Linked DNA regions of Homo sapiens: region 2 is linked to region 1. Evidence: fine-mapped expression QTL. A gene starts in region 1. The other region holds a variant in brackets. All regions are shown on one strand. Distances are between the middles of the regions.

Region 1 (5,381 bases):
ACAGCAGCTGAGAGGTGGTCAGTCTTATTCCCCATTCCCTGTTTTTCCAGAATAATTTTAGGTGGTCAAATTAATCTGTCTCCAATCAAGATTTATTTTTCTGCTAGTGCAAATAACATTCAACTGTTGGTTTCTGATGTATTTGTACCATCAGCTTTGTCTTAACATTTATACAACATGACATAGGACATGTTCATTTATATAGTTTATCTGTACATTTCTTAGGTCACTTTTCAAAAGTCAGGTTTGTTGAGGTATAATTCATATTCAGTCAAATTCACCTGTGAGTTATATGCATTGGTGGATATTTATAGTAACCACCACCACACTTGAGATGTTGACTATTCCCATCACTCTAAAATGTCCCTTCGCACCCCTTTGTAGTCAACCTCCCCTCCCCACCTCCAGCCCCTGCTATCCCCTGATTTAATCTCTACCCTTAAGACACTTTTCATTTCCTGTTCTGTGTTCTCATGGTTCATCCTGAAATGAATCTCTACCAGCTGGGATCCTGATTTGTATCCCTACGGTGCCCAATGTGGTACCTGGTACCTAAAAGGTGCTCAGTAAATGGGTGCTGAATAAATGAATGCATATTTTGTTTTTCAGGTTCTATCAAATCATATGGGAGACTTTGTTCCCTGATTTCCAGGATGTGCCATTTGAAAGGGGCTATTTATACTGGGAAAGACCTTCTTGCAGAGTCTTATGCAACCTTTCAAAAAATGGGCCATAGTGATTTCCAATTTCAGAGATTTTTGCTGAGCATTTCAAACATATCCCTAGACTTGGGGCTTACAACTTTGTTCATCCAGCAAGTAGATGGAAATATCCTCTCTCAACCTGAGCAAGTAGATGGAAATAGACTCTGGGACCATATGCAGCTGTTCTTCTCTCCTCCAAGCTCTCCTCCCCATCTTTGATCCCTCCATCTCCACTTGGCATGGCCCCAGAGTCCCATCCAGAGCTTCCCTGAACAAGTTCTGGGAGATTCCAGACCACGTTTATGAAGAACTCCAAGGGTAGAGCCGACATCTGCTTGAAGCTTTCTCATCATGCAGGTTGTGGCTCTGTGAAAACCCACCTGCTGCTGGCTCATCAGTCAGGCTTGGATCCCATTGGTCCTTTCTGAGCTAATTCCTCTTCTATCTTGATGTGTGTGAATCAGAAACTGAACATTCCAGCCAGGTGTGGTGACAGAGACCTGTAATCCCAGCACTTTGGGAGGCCGAAGTGGGAGAATTGCTTGAGGCCAGGAGTTTGATAGCAGCCTGGGCAACATAGTGAGATCTCATCTCTATACACACAAGCGTGCGTGCGCGCGCGCACCAGGCATAGTGGTGCATGCTTGTAGTCCCAGCTACTTGGGAGGCTGGAGTGGAAGGATTGCTTGAGTCCAGGAGTTCAAGTGAGTTCAAGTACAGTGAGCTATGATTGCACCACTGCACTCCAGCCTCAGTGACAGGGTAAGACCATGACAAGAAAGAAAGAAAGAAAGAAAGAAAGAAAGAAAGAAAGAAAGAAAGAAAGAAAGAAAGAAAGAAAGAAAGAAAGAGAAAGAAAGAAAGAAAGAAAGAAAGAAAGAAAGAAAGAAAGAAAGGAAGGAAGGAAAGAGAAAGAAACAAAGAAAACAAACATTCCCAGAGCAAGTATAAGAGTATTAACAGGCAGTGAACAAAATCCCCCTTTGCCCTGACAGTTCCATGAAATGAGCTAGTACTCAAAGAAAACTTCCCTTTCTTGAAAAGTGTGGGTATTTTCCCCCAGACCATCTTACTATCCTCAAGCAGATGGGTTTCCACGCACTTTCTGGTGCTGACAGCCCCCTGCTGTGCCCTCTGAACACAGACACTACAAAAAACCCATTTCACCTCTTAAGATTTGCACCTTGCCTCCAAGATGAAGCCTTGATGCTGGCATCCGAATGTATCCAAATAAAACCTAATTCCCTTTCTTCCTCCTTTGTCCCCACACATGCAGGCCGTGGCTTCCCTAGAGTAGCTCTGGTAGACAGTTCCTGCTCCTAGGAGACAGTTGCACAATGTAAACCTGCACCAAGATGTAAACCTGTACCAAGGTCAAAGTTTCAAGGTGTGAACTCCTTGGTACAATGATGAGGTTCTGCTACATGCTGCTACGTAAACAAAATACCGAAAAGGTCTTAATTTTTTGCTACATGGAGTAATTGTGTTCATAACCCCACGTGGACAGACAAATCATTAGTAAATCAAAGGGAGCCAAAGAAATTCTTTCTATAGTAAGGGTGACAGGGTGGGGGGCTGTGAGGATTTTGGGGGTGGATGGGGAATTGGAGACAAGGAGGCTTCAGAAAAAGAGAAAAAGAAAAAAGTGAGGTTTAAGTAGAGGAAAGCTTATATTCTTCATGAAAATCAAAAGCTGTGGCGGTCAAACTTTTGTGTTAGTAGTACCATGGTGAAAACATATTTTACTGCGTTGCGCGCGCCTCACACCCACACACACACAGAAGTATAATGGAAATCAATTTAAAATAAAATGTAGCATAGCTAGCTATAAGCTTAGGACATCTGTGTGTGTGTGTGTGGCCGCGAACAGCCTGACCCGGGCGGAGCGCACCCTCGGGCCGCGTCTCCCCCGCCGTACCAGCCTGCCTGACCGCGCGGAGGAGGAGGGCGGGCGCGGTGCCGCCGGGGCGGGAAGGTCGCGGGCGGCTGCTCCGGACTGCAGCTCCCGCGGCGGTGGCGGCGTATCGGGACACGGCGCGGGATGGACGCGCAGGACTGCCAGGCGGCCGCATCGCCCGAGCCGCCCGGGCCCCCAGCCCGTAGCTGCGTGGCCGCCTGGTGGGACATGGTCGACCGCAACCTGCGGTGAGTACCGCCCGGTCCACCCCTGGCCGGGCCCCGACGGCTCAGGCTGCGCGGGGATGGGGCAGGGGGCCAGGGCGCGGCCGAGGCCGCAATCCCCTCTGCTGGCCCGGGCCCAAGGCCCAGCATTGTGGCTTCCGGGGGACCTCGGCGGCCCCCTGAGAACTCTAGGGCTCTTTGGTTGCCCTTGCTATCCTCAGCCTCAATCCCAACCTGGACCAGCGAGACTCTCAGGTTTGGTATTTCAGGAAGTTATAACTTTTGGGGGCTTCTGAAATACAGATGCCAGGGAGATGGTTGAATTCCTACACCAATCTCTATTATCTGACCATTTTGCTAACATACAAGATGGATCTGAATGACATTAGTAATAGTGACAATAGTAATATATGTTGTAATCTTGGACGGGATCCTCTTAGGTCAAGGGCCTATCTGTGTAGGTGGAAAAGAATCAGAAAATCCGTGCCTAGTTCCCTGAGTGTGAACTCCCTGGCATGTATTTAAAGAAAACACCTCCAGTATGCTAAAGATGTACATAGTGTGTTGAAACCATAACTTGGCATTACCTGTGCCAAGTTCTTATGTTGTTTAAGTCTGAAATGTATCAGTGGGTGTTTCGGGTTTTGTTTCTGTTTTCTTCCTCCCATGGATCCTCGGTTTAAACAGTAATCTTAAATTACCTGAATCCACCTGCAACATATTGTCAGTCTTGTTTGCACTGAAGCCAGGTATTGGTTGGAGATCGTGGACCCAGGACACGTGGGTATTTCATTTAGTTTTGTTGGTGTGGGAAGGTATTGGCATTTTTACTTCCCTCTTTCTATTCCTTTTGTTTAATTTGTGCTGATTAGAAAATATCCAAAAATTACATCCAGACACAGGAGACCTCACTTTGGAGTGCCCAGAGTGATGATGACAAACGGGGATCTTTTCTCTCTCTCTCTCTCTTTTTTTTTTCTTTTTTGAGACAAGGGTTTCACTCTGTTGCCCAGGCTGGAGTGCAGTGGCACAATCTTGGCTCATTCCCAGGGCTCCAGCGATCCTCCCGTCTCAGCCTCCCCAGTAGCTGGGACTACAGGCACCTGCCACCACACTGAGCTGATTTTTGTATTTTGTGTAGATATGGGTTTTCACTACATTGTTCAGGTTGGTCTCAAACTCCTGGAGCTCACAGATTCCACCTGCCTTGGCACCCCAAAGTGTTGGGATTACAGGTGTGAGCCACTGCACCTGGTCTCTTTTCTCTTCTATTCCTTTTTATTCTCATTGCAGACAGCAGAGTGCTGGCAGCTCTGCAGGGGCCCAGTCACCTAGAACCCATGCCTCCCAGCTCTGGGTTGGATCTGAACACGTGGCAGAATGTCCTGATTGCACTTGTCAAACTGCATATTAACAGGACTTCTCTCCCAGATGTGGTGATTCTGGGAACGTTGACATCTAATGTTTTTCACTTTGATGGTCTCTGTGGAATTGATGGCTGATTATTTAACATTTATTTGGCAGTAAAGGGCATTTATTAGGCAGAGAATCAAAGTTGCACATCATACTCATAGAGAATAACCCACTTTGTTGATAATGGAGTGGGAGATAGGGAGTTGGGGACCATCTATTACTTGCCTTACTAATTAGTGAAAAAAGTCTCAAGAGACACTTCCTGAAAGAACAAAATACTAGCGTATGTCTTCATCTGAGCAGAAGATTATTGGCTACCATAAGATGTGCTGAGGCTGAGGCCCAGACCCATTTCCACTATCCCAAGTCCTCTTTGATTCTTGGAGCCGGGTTCACTTAGGTGAGCAAACCTTCATGGAGGGCTTGCCATGCCCCTGGCCCTGATCATGGCACTGGAACTAGTGGGATGTGTTGTGAGACCCAAGAACATTTCATCATATGATTTTTTCAGTGGCTATTTTTTAATGCCTTGGGAATCTAGTTATTTATTTTACAAAAATTTTTATCAAATCCAGTTGCTGCTTAAGGTGGGTGGGCCAAGGAGAGTAAGTCTCCACTTTACAACTGGTTTTCTTTAAATTAGAAAAATGAGGCCAGGCATTGTGGCTCACATCTGTAATCCCAGCACTTTGGGAAGCCAAGGCGGGCAGATCATGAGGTCAGGAGATGGAGACCATCCTGGCTAACACAGTGAAACCCTGTCTCTACTAAAAATACAAAAAATTAGCCAGGCGTGGTGGCACATGCCCGTAGTCCCAGCTACTCCGGAGGCTGAGGCAGGAGAATTGCTTGAACCTGGGAGGCGGAGGTTGGAGTGAGCCGAGATCGCACCACTGCACTCCAGCCTGGGTGACAGAGCGAGACTCCGTCTCAAAAAAAAATAATAATAAAAAAAGAAAAATGGAAAATGTGCTCCAGAAGGAAGTTGGGGGAAACCAAAGGTTTATTTTCCTCCTCATTTCCCCCATTCCACCCCAAGTCATTACAATCCTAGATAGTGCTCAGAAAATGTGCAGGAGTAGGCTGATAAATGTGTTCATTCTTTCCACAGCGTTGGTTCTTTATTATCTATTGGATAGTATT
Region 2 (5,381 bases), 150 kb after region 1:
CATTTGGTAATTTTAAAAAAATAACTGGATAAACTTTATTCTACAGTGGTCATGTTTTGCTTTAAATTTAGATTAAAAGGGATAAATATTTATCACTTAAATTTATCAAAAGGAAATCATCTCCACAATTTGAATTCTATTAAGCAAAACAAAGCTTTAGTTCATAGAGTTGTTTATGAATGTTTTTGAGGGCCACATATGTTCAGCTATGTATGGTGGAAGCTGGCATTCAAAAAGGCAATGAGGAGGGAGTGGGGCATTGCTGAGGCACGAGAAATCATTAAATTCAAAGGAATAAAGAAGAAAAAGGATGGCACTGGTCTTCAATATTAACAATAATCCAATGAGAACAGAAGTTTATAAGAATAATGGGTAAAAGTACTTGCCCCTTTCATTAAGGAAAGCAAATAGTAGGCAGAAAAAAACAATCAATGTGTGTAACAGGGATCACCCTGCCATAAAAATCAGATATGACCCAACACCTTGCAGGGGAAAGGCAACTTCATACTAAGTGAATTATAGCTTCCCTGTGATGTTTAAATTAAATGCTGGATATAACCTTTTTATTTGATTTAAATCTGTACATGCCATAGACATTTATTTTAAGCAATTCTTTCAATGAGTTATATGCAGTTATTAAGGATAAGCTTTTCAATGAGTAATATATGCAATTTTGCATATATATGCATAATCTGAAAAAAAGTAATTTACAGTAAACGAAAGCTAAATACTCACATATACGTTAGTAATACTTAAAAAACACCACCCAGTTGAGTAAACTGTAAACTTTTGGGGCTGGCAAGAAAGGCACAATTTAAATTTATTTAAGGCACAAATTTAAATTTATTACCAAAGTCATAAAGAACTGTGTCTTTTTATATAATAATCAACTGGTAGGCATTTAGTAATTGTTTTCAAATGCAAGGTCTTCGTATAAGGAATGCATTAGTAATTGCTTGAGCAATGCTAAATTTTGGCTTTCACGGCAATTGCTTTTGAACTCTCAGAGAAGGCCTTTGGAAAACATCATTTAAGAGCTCTCTATGCCACATGCAGGGTAATATTGGAGGGTGGGGTGAGGGGAAACCTTCTCCTTGTAAGCTCTGTCACTGATTTAGAGCAGAAAGAAAGCTTTGCTCTGATGAAGAGGCCCGGGCAGAGGCAAGCCTGGGGCTGCACATTTTATGCCAGCAGAGTAAAGAAAGAACTGATTGATAAACTCCATTGCTTTGGAAAACAGAAGGAAGTATACAAAACTGCTAGGCTGTTAGGGAATCAAAAGTTTAACATGGGCATGTGTGCCAAAAAAAAAGGCAAAGAAATCAGTGTGTAATTCTTTGAAAGGGTGGCTTACATTTAAAAATCCATTTCTACCTTGACATGGTTAAATATGAACTTAGGCAATTTACTGGAGGCCAGAACTAAGGTTATTTCTGTGAGGCAAACCTCAAAACATAAGAATGCTAAACAGTACAGAAGGTCATTATTTTACTGTCTTATACAGTTTATGGTTTTTCTCCTTCAGCTATAGTGGAGAATTTATGAGCTCTTAAATGCTGGTTGAATTGCTGGTCATTGTGTCTAGATAAAGCAATCTGAAATTATAGTTGCCAGGGGATCATGGTTGAAAAATATTTAAATGTCTAAGCAGAGGAGAAGCATTATTGTGGGTCAGGGAGGAAGAAAAGAAGAAAGAAAGGCAGAAAGGGAGGAAGAAAAAAGAGGAAGAAGGAACAAGGGAGGAATGAAAAAGAAAAAAAGGAAGGCAGGAAGGAAATGAAGGAAGAAAAGAAGAGAAAACTGTGGCCTGTTACCATTAAATGATACAATTATTACAAGGTGTTTTGGAAACCTACAAGGTTTTACAAGCTCAACAATAAGGACCCTGAGTTTACAAAAAAATAGGCCTCTTTCTGAATATTCAGTAGTAGAGAATTAGGACCTCAGTGTGGAAGACAGGAACCAGTTGGAAAATCAGGCTGTGTTTCCGGCTTGTTGGCAAAAAGTAACTACCTCAAGAAGGGGTATGTTTGAAGTTGATCTCTATGTGTTTGTATGTAAAGAACAACAACAACCACAAAATAGGAATTTTCCCACGACACATAAAAATAAAAGAGGAGAAGGAAACTCTCCCGCCACACAGTTACGTATTAACCGGCGGGTTTCCTTGCGTCCCAGGTAACACCCATACCTGGATCTGCTGGACCATGTTGCGCAGCTGTACCAGAAACTCCTTGGCTTCTTTGGCCCTGTCTGACAGTCCGTTCAGCGCCTGGGAGAGCTGGCTCTGCAAAGACAAAGAAGGAAGCCATGGAGCTGTAATCACAGGATACACCAACAAGGCCAGCGAGACTCAAAACTGAAGAGTCATCAACCTCCTCAGATTCCTCTTGTCTGAGGTTGGACCTTTTTGCTGGCATTTGTACAGGTAGATTCTGGTGTCGAAACTCCCTGTGCTCCTGAGTAGTTTCTCCTTGGAAGCAGTGAACACTTCTGGCCACAGCAGTCAAAGGCCCTCACCAGCTGATATCAACCTAGAATTTCTTCATCTCCTCCTTCATTGATTAATTAAACAATCATTTATTGAATACATATTTGCTAAGGACTAAAAAAGCAAAACAAAATAGTGAGTCAGATGATCTAATTCTTATCAACGTTACTTAGCACAAAGGGCTATTGGTCTGGGTAGGGCAGAAAGAATAGAGTAAAGAACAGGATGAAGGAAGGGGTAGGTACTGGTGTGATCCTCTGGGGCCACTTAAATATAATCACAAATTCAATGGGCAGGATGACATTCCACTCCTGCCTCATCCGTGTCCTCTTCCTTCTCCCAAGTACAGCCCTGCTGCCCTAGCACATTTGTGTCCTCTCCTCACTAGCCTCCGACACCAAGGCTTACTCTCTTTCTTTCTTCCCACACCACCCCATCCATACGAGGAGGCAGTTCTGCTGGGTTGGCAAGGTGTCCAGGTAGGTACT[T/C]GCTCTTCCAGCCTCCTCGTCCGCTGGGGAGGCCGTGGTACACAATCCTGACGGACGACACCTAAGTGGAAGTCTGCTGGGGACTGGAGGGGTCTGAGAAAGCTTTTGCTTTTCTGCTGATACGGAACCACTGTGATTGATGCAGCCTCTCCACTGTGGTTCCTGACTTTAGGATGGATGTGATGTCTTCCGGCTCACATGAGGAGAAGGCCAATAGGGTATGGGTGGAGGGATGGGAGGGGAAGGAGCTCGGTTCTGATGGCATCTTTGAGCAGCTGAGTCAACACCTGAAACCTTCACCACTAGCTTTCTTGTTATGTGATAAAAATTAACTCCTATTCAAGTCACTGTTCTGGAGTTTTCTATTGCTAGCAGGAATTTATATCAAGTATCACTGTACTTGATACAAATTCCTTCCCCTCCTAGCAGTCTGGGTATACCCTTCCGTACCTCAGGTACAGAGACAGACTCCCTTTCCTGCACTGTCTTCTTTTCAAATTAAAGCCTATTCTCCTTGCCAACACAATGATTCATCTACCCTTTCCTTTCTGTAAAAGGGCAGAACCTTAAAATTATATCTCTTGGTGCTGTGAATGCTTTTCTCTTATATTTGTCTTTTAAATACAAAGTTGGGCACTGACTCTCTAAAAATATGCACACCAAATGCTTGGTTGAGGCAATGTGGGATGGTAGAAAGAATATAGGTTTGAAAGGGTGCAGATTCTCGCTCTATCCCCTATAAGTGTGACCTTGAGAAAGTTACCTTTGTCTGAATTACTCCAATGGAAAAGGTGGGAAGAACAGTAATACTTTGTAGTTGGGTTATTGTGAGGGTTGAATGCATTAATCAATGTGAAAGCTTCTGCTAGTTAAGGGAACAATTCTGAATTCTGAAATGCTGCCAGTTACTGGCTGTTCAACCCTTTATACATTGTTTTACCTCATCCATAAAATCAGAGGAAGAATACTATTCTTGGGTTTTGTGGGCATTGCATAAGATACTATATCTAAAGCCCAGAACCCTATTACCCTACTGGTGCACAGTGCATGATGCGTGCTTAATAAATGCTGGCTGTTAACTTTTTTTTTTTTTTTTTTTTTTTTTTTTTGAGACAGAGTCTCACTCTCTCACCCAGGCTGAAGTGCAATGGTGTGATCTTGGCTCACTGCAATCTCTGCCTCCCAGGTTCAAGCGATTCTCCTGCCTCAGCCTCCCGAATAGCTGGGATTACAGCCGTGCACCACCACACCGAGTGAACTTTTGTATTTTTAGTAGAGATGGGGTTTCTCCATGTTGGCCAGGCTGGTCTCAAACTCCTGACCTCAGGTGATCCACCCACCTCGACCTCCCAAAGTGCTGGGATTACAGGTGTGAGCCACCGTGCCCAACCAGCTGTTAACTCTTATTTGTTTTCTTCATTCTTGCTCACACAAACACCTGCTGACTGGAGGGATTCGCAGGACAGATTCCTGGAACAGGGTCTGTTGGAGAACATTTTCGATCACCTGTACTTTGCTCTATGTATTTAGGCTCCAAGAGGCAAGACCAACACAACTGAGTAAGATAAAGCTCAAAGTGAGCCTACAGTTGCAAAATTCTTTATGATTGGGTCTCAGCTACAATATTATTTGGAGTAAAAGTTTCTCCTCAATAACTATTAATATTTCCAGGAGCCCAAGGGATAAAGGAGGGAAAAACGGTCTCATTTGGAAGAGCAGGCAATAATATGAGAGGCATATTTTAAAGAAGAAATTTTTTTTCATTGTTACTTTAGAACTCATATCTTTTTTTTTTCCTGAATGAGTAAAAGTTTGCTGGACTACCATAGTTTTCTTCCTCTTTTTATTATAACCTATGTTTAGTAACCACACTTAGATGTTTCAGTACAGAAGTAAAATTGATTTGGTTACACAGAAGTGAAGCTGCCTGGTGTCTTGTATTCCAACCTTGCAATTAATTGTGTCTGTATAAGACAGACTTGATACCCATAGATTTTTTGACCAGTTGCTGCTGTATACTTAGAAATACAATCATTCCTAGTAGTAGACAAAGAGTTTTGGCCCCATCTAGTCCCAGGATTTTATATGACAAAGCAGTAAGTGAACTGCAAAAATCAATTTATTTCCAATTTCCTCTTTGTGTTTATGGTCCGTCCCAAGAATGCCTTCTACCTGGCTGATGATTGTTCTGGTATTTGATAAAAAATTGCATTATAAGATAAAGATCTAGAAATCATTCTCTTAAGCTTTGTCCACTTGTAGAAATTGAGGAGACAATGAAAAATCCTGGAAAACTATCACTAGAAAGTGCTCTTATTGTAAGGATTTATATGCACATTGTTTTTATAGGTTGGTATTTTAATCACATTTATAAGCTCCATCTGATGTAGAAGAACATTGTT

The links. PIP is the estimated chance that this variant, and not a neighbour inherited with it, causes the effect.
Region 2: its variant is the best candidate, but not a certain one, in a credible set for the expression of ABHD12B in sun-exposed skin (GTEx, PIP 0.85).

What each region holds. Positions count from the first base shown.
Region 1 is chr14:50,869,430-50,874,810 of GRCh38, forward strand. It overlaps ABHD12B (abhydrolase domain containing 12B), which reads left to right and starts at 2,624. Exons shown (of 13, transcript NM_001206673.2): 1 at 2,624-2,849. The coding sequence starts at 2,746.
Region 2 is chr14:51,023,074-51,028,454 of GRCh38, forward strand. It overlaps TRIM9 (tripartite motif containing 9), which reads right to left. Exons shown (of 13, transcript NM_001387360.1): 2 at 2,192-2,287. Among named protein-coding and RNA genes, the nearest start is that of TRIM9, 69 kb to the right of the region's middle. RefSeq lists an enhancer at 5,318-5,381. The variant T/C (reference allele first, on the strand shown) is at 2,980.